2 linked regions of the Homo sapiens genome follow. The protein of the gene in region 1 interacts with the protein of each later gene in a pairwise test. Each region holds a gene or a part of one and is shown on either strand. Other genes may lie near its edges. The genes, in order: WASHC3 and SRGAP2B.

Region 1 (3,816 bases):
GTGGTGCACACCTGTATTCCCACCTACTTGGGAGGCTGAGGCAGGAGAATCACTTGAACCTGGGAGGTGGAGGTTGCAGTGAGCCAAGATTGCGCCATTGCACTCCAGCCTGGGTGACAGAGCAAGACTCCATCTCAAAAAAACAAAACAAAAGAAAAAAGAAAAGCTTCGCTGATTCTTTCAAACACACATCAGACCTTAAGTTCATTAGCATTTATAACGTCACTGAGCTGCATTGAGCTCTGTGGCTGAAAAAGCCAATTCTTTGTATTTCTGTGGTATCAGTTGTAACATCTCTTTCGTTTCTGATATTATTTGAATCTTCTCCTTTTCTTAATCTAGCTAAAAGTTTGTGGATTTTGTTTTTCTTTTCAAAAATCCAGCTCTTAGTTTCATTGATCTTTTCTATTGTTTTTCTAGTCTCTTTCATTTTTTTCTGTTCCGATCATTATTATTTTTTTCCTTCTACTAACTTTGGGTTTTATTTGTTCTTCTATTCCTTCAGTTGTAACACTAGGATGTTACACTTTGGATCTTTCATCTTTTTTGTTATAGGTCTTTACTGCCGAAGCTTCCTTTCCTCTTAAAACTGCTTTTGCCACCTCCCATAAGTATTGATGTGTTGTATGTCCATTTTCATTTGTCTCAAAATACTTTTAATTTCGTTTTTAATTTACTTGACCTATTGGTTGTTTAGGAGCATGTTATTTAATTTCCAGTTATTTATGATTTTTTTCAAGATTCCTTCTATTATTGATTTCTGGTTTCAAACCAATATGGTCAGAAAAGATACTTGATACGATTTCAGTCTCCTTAAATGTATTAAAATTTGTTTTGTGGCATATCATATAACCTGGAGAATGTTTTGTGTGCCCTTGAGAAGAATGTGTATTCTGTTGCTGTTTTATTGAATTTTCTACATATGTCTGTTAGGGCCAGTGTTTCATTATTGATTTTCTGCCTGGATGATATGTCCATGGTGTTTGTAGAGACGGCGTCTCACCATGTTGCCCAGGCTAGTCTCAAACTCCTGAGTTCAGGGGATCCTCCCGCCTTGGCATCCCAAAGTGCTGGGATTACAAATGTGAGCCACTGTGCTGAGCTCTTTTCCATTCTTTCACTTCAATCTATGTGTGTCCATTTTTTAAAGGTGAAGTGAGTCTCTTGTACACAGCAGGTAGTTGGGTCTTATTTTTGTATCTATTCAGTCAATCTGTGTCTTTTGATCAGAGAATTTAGTCCATTTACATTCAGGGTAATTATTGATAGATAAGGACTTACTGCTGCGATTTTGTTCATTGTTTTCTAGTTGCTTTATAGATCTTTTGTTCCTTTCTTCCACTCTTGCTGTCTTTTGTGATTAGATGATTGTCTCTAGTGATATACTTTGATTCCTTACTTTTCATCTTTTGTGTATTTACTATTAGGTTTTTGCTTTGTTGTTCCCATGAGGCTGACATAAAACATGTTATAACAGGCTATTTTAAACTGATAATAACATAATTGATAACATAAAAAACCTCTGCACTTTTACTCCACCTCTCCACATTTTGCTTTTGATTTTGCAACGTATATCTTTTTATACTGCATATCCCTTAACAAGTTATTGTAGCTATTATTATTTTTAATAGTTTTGTCTGTTAACTTTCATACTAAAGATATAAGTGATTTAATCACCATGACAGTATTAGAATATTCTGAATTTGACTGTATACATTTTTTTTTCAGCTCTAAAATTTCTGTTTGATTTTTTAAATAATAATTCCAATCTTTCTGTTACATTTCTCATTTTGGTCATTTATTATTTTCTTGATTTCATTGAATTGTTTCTCTGAATTTTCCTGAAGTCCACTGAGTTTCCCTAAAACAATAATTTTGGATTCGTTGTGAAGAAGGGTCAGTTACTGGTGATTTGTTTCTTTAGTAGTGACGTGTTTCTCTGATTATTCTTGGTCTTTGTGGCCATGTGTTGGTATGTGTGTGTTTGAAGAAGTAAGGACTTACTCCAGTCTTTGCAGACTGGCTTTGTCTGGGAAAGCCCTTCACCAGTAAGCTCATCCAGAGGTTCTAGACAGGCCATCTGTTGTGGTGCATGGCAGGCTTGCTGCTGGAGTCCTTGGGTAGGCTGGCCTGGTGCCTAGGTTCGTAGGGTTGTTCCTGGAGCCTGATCCACTGGGGTGGACCTGCTGATTAGCTCTATAGGGGTGGGCCTGGATCCTTAGGGTTCCAACTTGAAGCCTAAGTCTGCAGGGGTTGGTCTGGCACTGGGGTGAGCCTTGAGCCTGAGTCTGCAGTGTCTGGCCAGGTTCCAAGGTGGGCCTGGTGCTTGGAACCCCTGGGGTGGACCTGGAGCCAGAGTATGTGGGGGTGGGCCTGGGTCCTGGTTGTACTGTGACTAGCCTGGAGCCTGAGTCTGCAGGAGTGGTCCTGCAGCCTCCGTCCATGGGGGCCAATCTGGCAATGCAATCTACTGGGGTGGTCCCAGACTCTGGGTCTGCTGGAACATACCTAGACCCTGACTCACCACAGGGATTTGTCTGGGGCCAGCTTGGTGCTGGGGCAAGTGTGCAGCCTGGGGTCACAGGGGCCAGACTGGAGCCTGAGATTATAGGTGCTGGCCTGGTAACTTGGGCTACATGGGGCTGGCCTGGGTCCTACGGCAATAGTGGCTAGCCTGGAACTTGAGTCCACAGGGATGGTCCTGGAGCCTGTGTTTATGGGTGTCAGCCCAACAGAAGGGCCTACTGGGATGGGCCTAAACCCTACTTCCACTAGGGTATGGGCTGCAGGAGCCAGACTGGGGCCACAGGAGCTGACTTGGCACTGGTCAGGCCTGGAACCTATATCTGCAGGAGCTGACCTGGTGCTGGGGTGGGCCTGAACCTTGGGCCCATGGAGGCTAGCCCTGTGCTGGGATTGGTCCAGAACCTAGGGCCACTGGGGCTGGCCTGTCCCTAGAGCAGACCTGGAGACAATCTATGCAGTCTTGCCTGGTGCTGGGACTGTCCTGAGCCTTGAGCTGGTCTGGAACCTACGGTCCCAGTGGGACAAGCCTAGAACTCAGGACTGGGTGATCCAGCCTAGTGCCAGGATGGGCCTAAAGGCTTCGCCTGCAGGTGTCAGCCTGGAGTCTGGGCTGAGGGGGCTTGCTCAGCACTGAGTTCTGCTGGGGTGGGCCTGGTGTTGTGGTCCAAGGCAAAGTCCTGTGCTCACTGCCTCTCCTTCGCCCACCTGGAGGGTATCTCTCTCCATGCTGTGCTGCCTGGAGTTGGGGGAAGGGTGACATGAGTTCTGTAAAACTGTCCTTCTTACCCTCTTCAGTGTGTTTTTTCTTACTTTTGTGCTAAACCCAGTGCTGTAATTTCTCACCTGGTCTCCTTAGCTCTTGAGAATGTATTTTCGTGCGTGAATAGTTTTTCAAATGGATGTTTCTGTGGGAGGATCAGTGCTGGAAAGTCCTATTCCCCCATCTTGCTGTTGTCCCACCTTTTTCTCCTTTATGTATGATAATCTAGGGTTGACTGTAACTGATTGTCTACAATATATATTTTAGCAATTTGGATATTCATGTCAGCTGGAGACTGCTCAATGAGATAACAACTAATATTTATTGTGTACTTCCTCTGTGCTGGGCATCATACTAAGTGCTTTATGTGTATTTAATTATCGCAGTCAGTCCTTTGAGAGAGGTTTAGTTATCCCACTCATACAGATACAGAAACTAAGATGTAGAGAAGTTTAAATCATTTGCTTAGTCATTCATTCATTCAACATATCTTTGCATGCCCCCAGTAGTTGTAGCTGCATTAGCTGCAC
Region 2 (3,816 bases), on another chromosome or scaffold:
TAGGATTGGAAACAAGCTTGAGTTCTAGGCTTCCTGGCTTCCCTGTTAAGAGAAAGGATTGGACTCCTAGATGGTTGCTTTGATGGAAAATCATCCTTCACCTTTTATACTACTTCCCTCCTGTGGCAATTCCAGTTATACTTGATATGGATTTTATTCCTTCCCAGACTCTTACCTGAATTGTTTTGAAGGCTTACAGTCTTCATAGGGTTGTTGTCTAGATTGTGGAATTGTCCTAAGGATGAAATGAGAAAATGTGTTGTGTGGTACTTGGCATAAAGCCAGGAATATACTAAGTGCTCAGTAAATGATAACTGGCATTGCAATTGCTGCTGCTGCTTTAGTTGCTGTGAGAGGGTGTTTGATCTGGATAAAGCAGAACAGACAGATCCCCAGAATGCCAGGCCAGTAAAAGGAGCTTTTGGAAGCTTTTCCTCTTCCCTATTTTATATCTGAAAGGTAACAGAAAGCATAGGCTACTCCATAGGCTGCACTGCCCTCTTCGGGGTTCCTGACCAGCCCAGAAAGGCTTTGCCCTTGGGGCCTGAGAGTGGTGGTGTTGTTTCCCATCTACTCAGTATTATGAGGTGACTAAGTGATAGAAATCACCTGGCCAATATTAAAGAGAAGTGATTACAAATGATAATGAATAGAAATAAATAATACATGATGGATAGACATTAAGTTATTTCAATAAGAGGAAATGTTGGCTCAGTTCACATATTGCTTTCCTGTGCTTTGGAGTGGTCTTTAATCTGTGTTTGCTGAACCAAACACTTCTGGATTTTTCCCTTAGGGGTGTGAGGATATTGCTTCATGGGGGAGAGCTCCAGCTGAGTCTGTTAGTCTGTAAAGCAGAGAAATGACACCCTTGGCTTGACCTCTGGGGGTGGGGGTGGGCGATGTCTTGCAGGTCATGAAGACATATCACATGTACAATGCCGACAGCATCAGTGCTCAGAGCAAACTAAAGGAGGCGGAGAAGCAGGAGGAGAAGCAAATTGGTAAATCGGTAAAGCAGGAGGACCGGCAGACCCCACGCTCCCCTGACTCCACGGCCAACGTTCGCATTGAGGAGAAACATGTCCGGAGGAGCTCAGTGAAGAAGATTGAGAAGATGAAGGAGAAGGTATGTAGGCTCCCACAGCTGTAGATGCTGGGAAGCAACATTCGGTAAGGCATGGCTGATAGGAATTTCCCAACAGTCACTGGGAAGAGCAGACGAGGAAGCTCTGGGTTCTTTTAGTGCCTAATGACTGAAAATGAGGCCTTGCTCTGTGCCCTGGCAGGAATACTAGGTATTGGAAGAACTGGGCACGTGGGTTCCAAGTTTCTAGCCTCTAGCAGAAAACCAAGAAACAGCAGTCACCTTTCCCAATCCATTTTCCAAATAGAGCTCAATATCCTATTGCTTTGGAGGGGTTGGGGGTGACTGTAAACCCAGGATTTGGTTTCAGGTATCAGGTGTTCAGGGGCAAGAGTAGTGGTACCTCCTTCAGAGTGGCATTGCAAGAATGAAGAATGATATTTGAAGATAGAATCAAAGTGGGGCACACATCTTAAGTAGGGAGCCTCATTAACCTTTCCTGAATTGATCTACATTGTGCCCTTGAATCTCATTAAACAGAATTAGAACCCAATTTAAGGCAGATGCGCATAGGGAGTAGCAACACAATTGTAGTTCTTGAATACACTGTACTTTTATCTTTTAGAGAACAAGCCCCCCTTAAAAAAAAAAGGTAAAAGTGAACTTCTGTTTCCTTTTCAGCGCCAAGCCAAGTACACGGAGAATAAGCTGAAGGCCATCAAAGCCCGGAATGAGTACTTGCTGGCTTTGGAGGCAACCAATGCATCTGTCTTCAAGTACTACATCCATGACCTATCTGACCTTATTGATGTAAGTGCTTAAAGCCAAGGGCCTGAGGGCACCTCTTTTCTGGTTTCAGAATACTCGTCAGACATTCCCTGATACTATTGTTCAGGAATCTGGTGCATTTTGAGAACAATTAGGAAGATAGCAGCCATGATCCAACAGGGTGCTTGCCAAGCACCAAGTGAAACACTTCACACTTATTCAATCCTAACTGGAATTCTGGGAGGAAGGCATTATTATCTATATTTTTACAGATTAACAGAGAGTTTAGATGACTTAGTCAGAGTCAGTTAACAAATGACAGAGGCAAAATTTGCACCTAGGCCTGATGACTCAACCCAGGCTCATAACCACTACACTCGTCTATCTGCCAGGAAATACTTTCTTCCTTTTTTTTTTTTTTTTTTTTTTTTTTTGAGATAGAGTCTTGCTTTGTCCCCCAGGCTGGAGTGCAGTGGTGCAATCTTGGCTCACTGCAACCTCCATCTCCCAGGTTCAAGCAATTGTCCTACCTCAGCCTCCCCAGTAACTGGGACTACAGGCATGCATCACCATGCCCAGCTAATTTTTGTATTTTTAGTAGAGATGGGGTTTCACCATGTTAGTGAAGCTGATCTGGAACTCCTCACCTCAGGTGACCTGACCTCAGGTGATCCACCTGCCTCGACTTCCCAAAGTGCTAGGATTACAGGTGTGAGCCACTGCACCCGACCTAGGAAATACTTTATTACATCAGCTTCTCTTGCACAGAAGTGAGTGGCAAGAACTTAACTAAAGAGTTACAATGCCATCCCTTATATTTGTATAGCATTTAAGGTTTCTCGGTGTTAACTCATTTGACTCTCACATCACCATTATGGGTAAGCATTGCTGTCTCCAGTTGCTAGATAAGGAAGCTCAAGGTCCAGAGGACTACGAGACTCACTTGTCCAAGGTTATGCGCAAATTAGGGTCCTGTCAGGAAGGTATCCAGCTCCCCCTGACATCTGGCCCATTTTTAAAAATATGTGATGCAAAGGGGATTGAGGAAAGCGGTTAATAGGCACATGTGTTTTGCAAGGGGCAAGCGCAGGGATAAGCTTTTTGTTTTTTGCCTGTGAGTTATTCTTGGCCTTGTTTTTCCTGCTGCTTCCCCTTACAGTTGGGTCTTACAAGCCCTCTCACCTACAGACTCCAATCTGGCCCAGGTCCTGAGCCACACCTAAGTGAAGCTATGTAATTACACCCTTTCTCACCTCTCCTTCCAGTCATCAAAGTGAGGCATCTGGAGCCAGCCAATTTAGCATCCCAGTCTCTGGGGCTTCAAGTGTATCTCATCTTGGAGGCCTGCCATTTGTTTCAGGGTCTTGTTGGCAGCAGTTGGGCTTTGCAAAACTCTGGCCCGACCACTCTTGCTTTCCTGCCTTGGTTTCTCCACAAGCAAACCTGCCACACCTCACAACATCATATGGGATTTGGGTCCGAGTCTTGCTGTTATATCACCACCTGGGTCATCTAGGCTTGTCACTGAATTGTTCTGGAACCCAGCTTTGTTTCTCACCCACTCCCAAGCTCCTCTAGCTAACTGAAGAACTGGACTAATTCCCTGGTATTAAAATCTGGCCTCACGTAAGAGTTGCTTGGGGAACTTCTCTAAAATACAGATTCCTGTCTCCCTTTAGCCGAGGATTTTTGATTCAGTAGATTTCAGCCACTTAATGCCCTAGGTGTCATTGTCTCACTGGGTTAGTAGAGCCTTGCTCCCTGTTCTGGTACCTCTTTGTTCTCTCTGCTTGTTGATGACAATCTGAACACTGTCCTTCAATGGAGGTCAAAGCCCTAAACAAGATCCTTTCTCCTCCTCAGGGGAAGAGCTCCTCATTGTTGGGAGAGAGGCCTGTTCTCAGCATAAGGAAGAGAATCCATTCTTTCTTATGCACAATTTCTGCTATTTATCTCGCATT

Evidence for each region.
Region 2: the proteins of WASHC3 (region 1) and SRGAP2B interact in a two-hybrid assay, tested with the Homo sapiens proteins (one large-scale study listed by BioGRID).

Annotation. Positions count from the first base shown.
Region 1 is NC_000012.12:102,051,684-102,055,499, reverse strand, and holds part of WASHC3 (WASH complex subunit 3), read left to right. Parts: intron 1-3,816. UniProt on the Homo sapiens protein: Acts as a component of the WASH core complex that functions as a nucleation-promoting factor (NPF) at the surface of endosomes, where it recruits and activates the Arp2/3 complex to induce actin polymerization, playing a key role in the fission of tubules that serve as transport intermediates during endosome sorting.
Region 2 is NC_000001.11:144,903,172-144,906,987, reverse strand, and holds part of SRGAP2B (SLIT-ROBO Rho GTPase-activating protein 2B), read left to right. Parts: intron 1-913; coding exon 914-1,129; intron 1,130-1,768; coding exon 1,769-1,897; intron 1,898-3,816. UniProt on the Homo sapiens protein: May regulate cell migration and differentiation through interaction with and inhibition of SRGAP2. In contrast to SRGAP2C, it is not able to induce long-lasting changes in synaptic density throughout adulthood.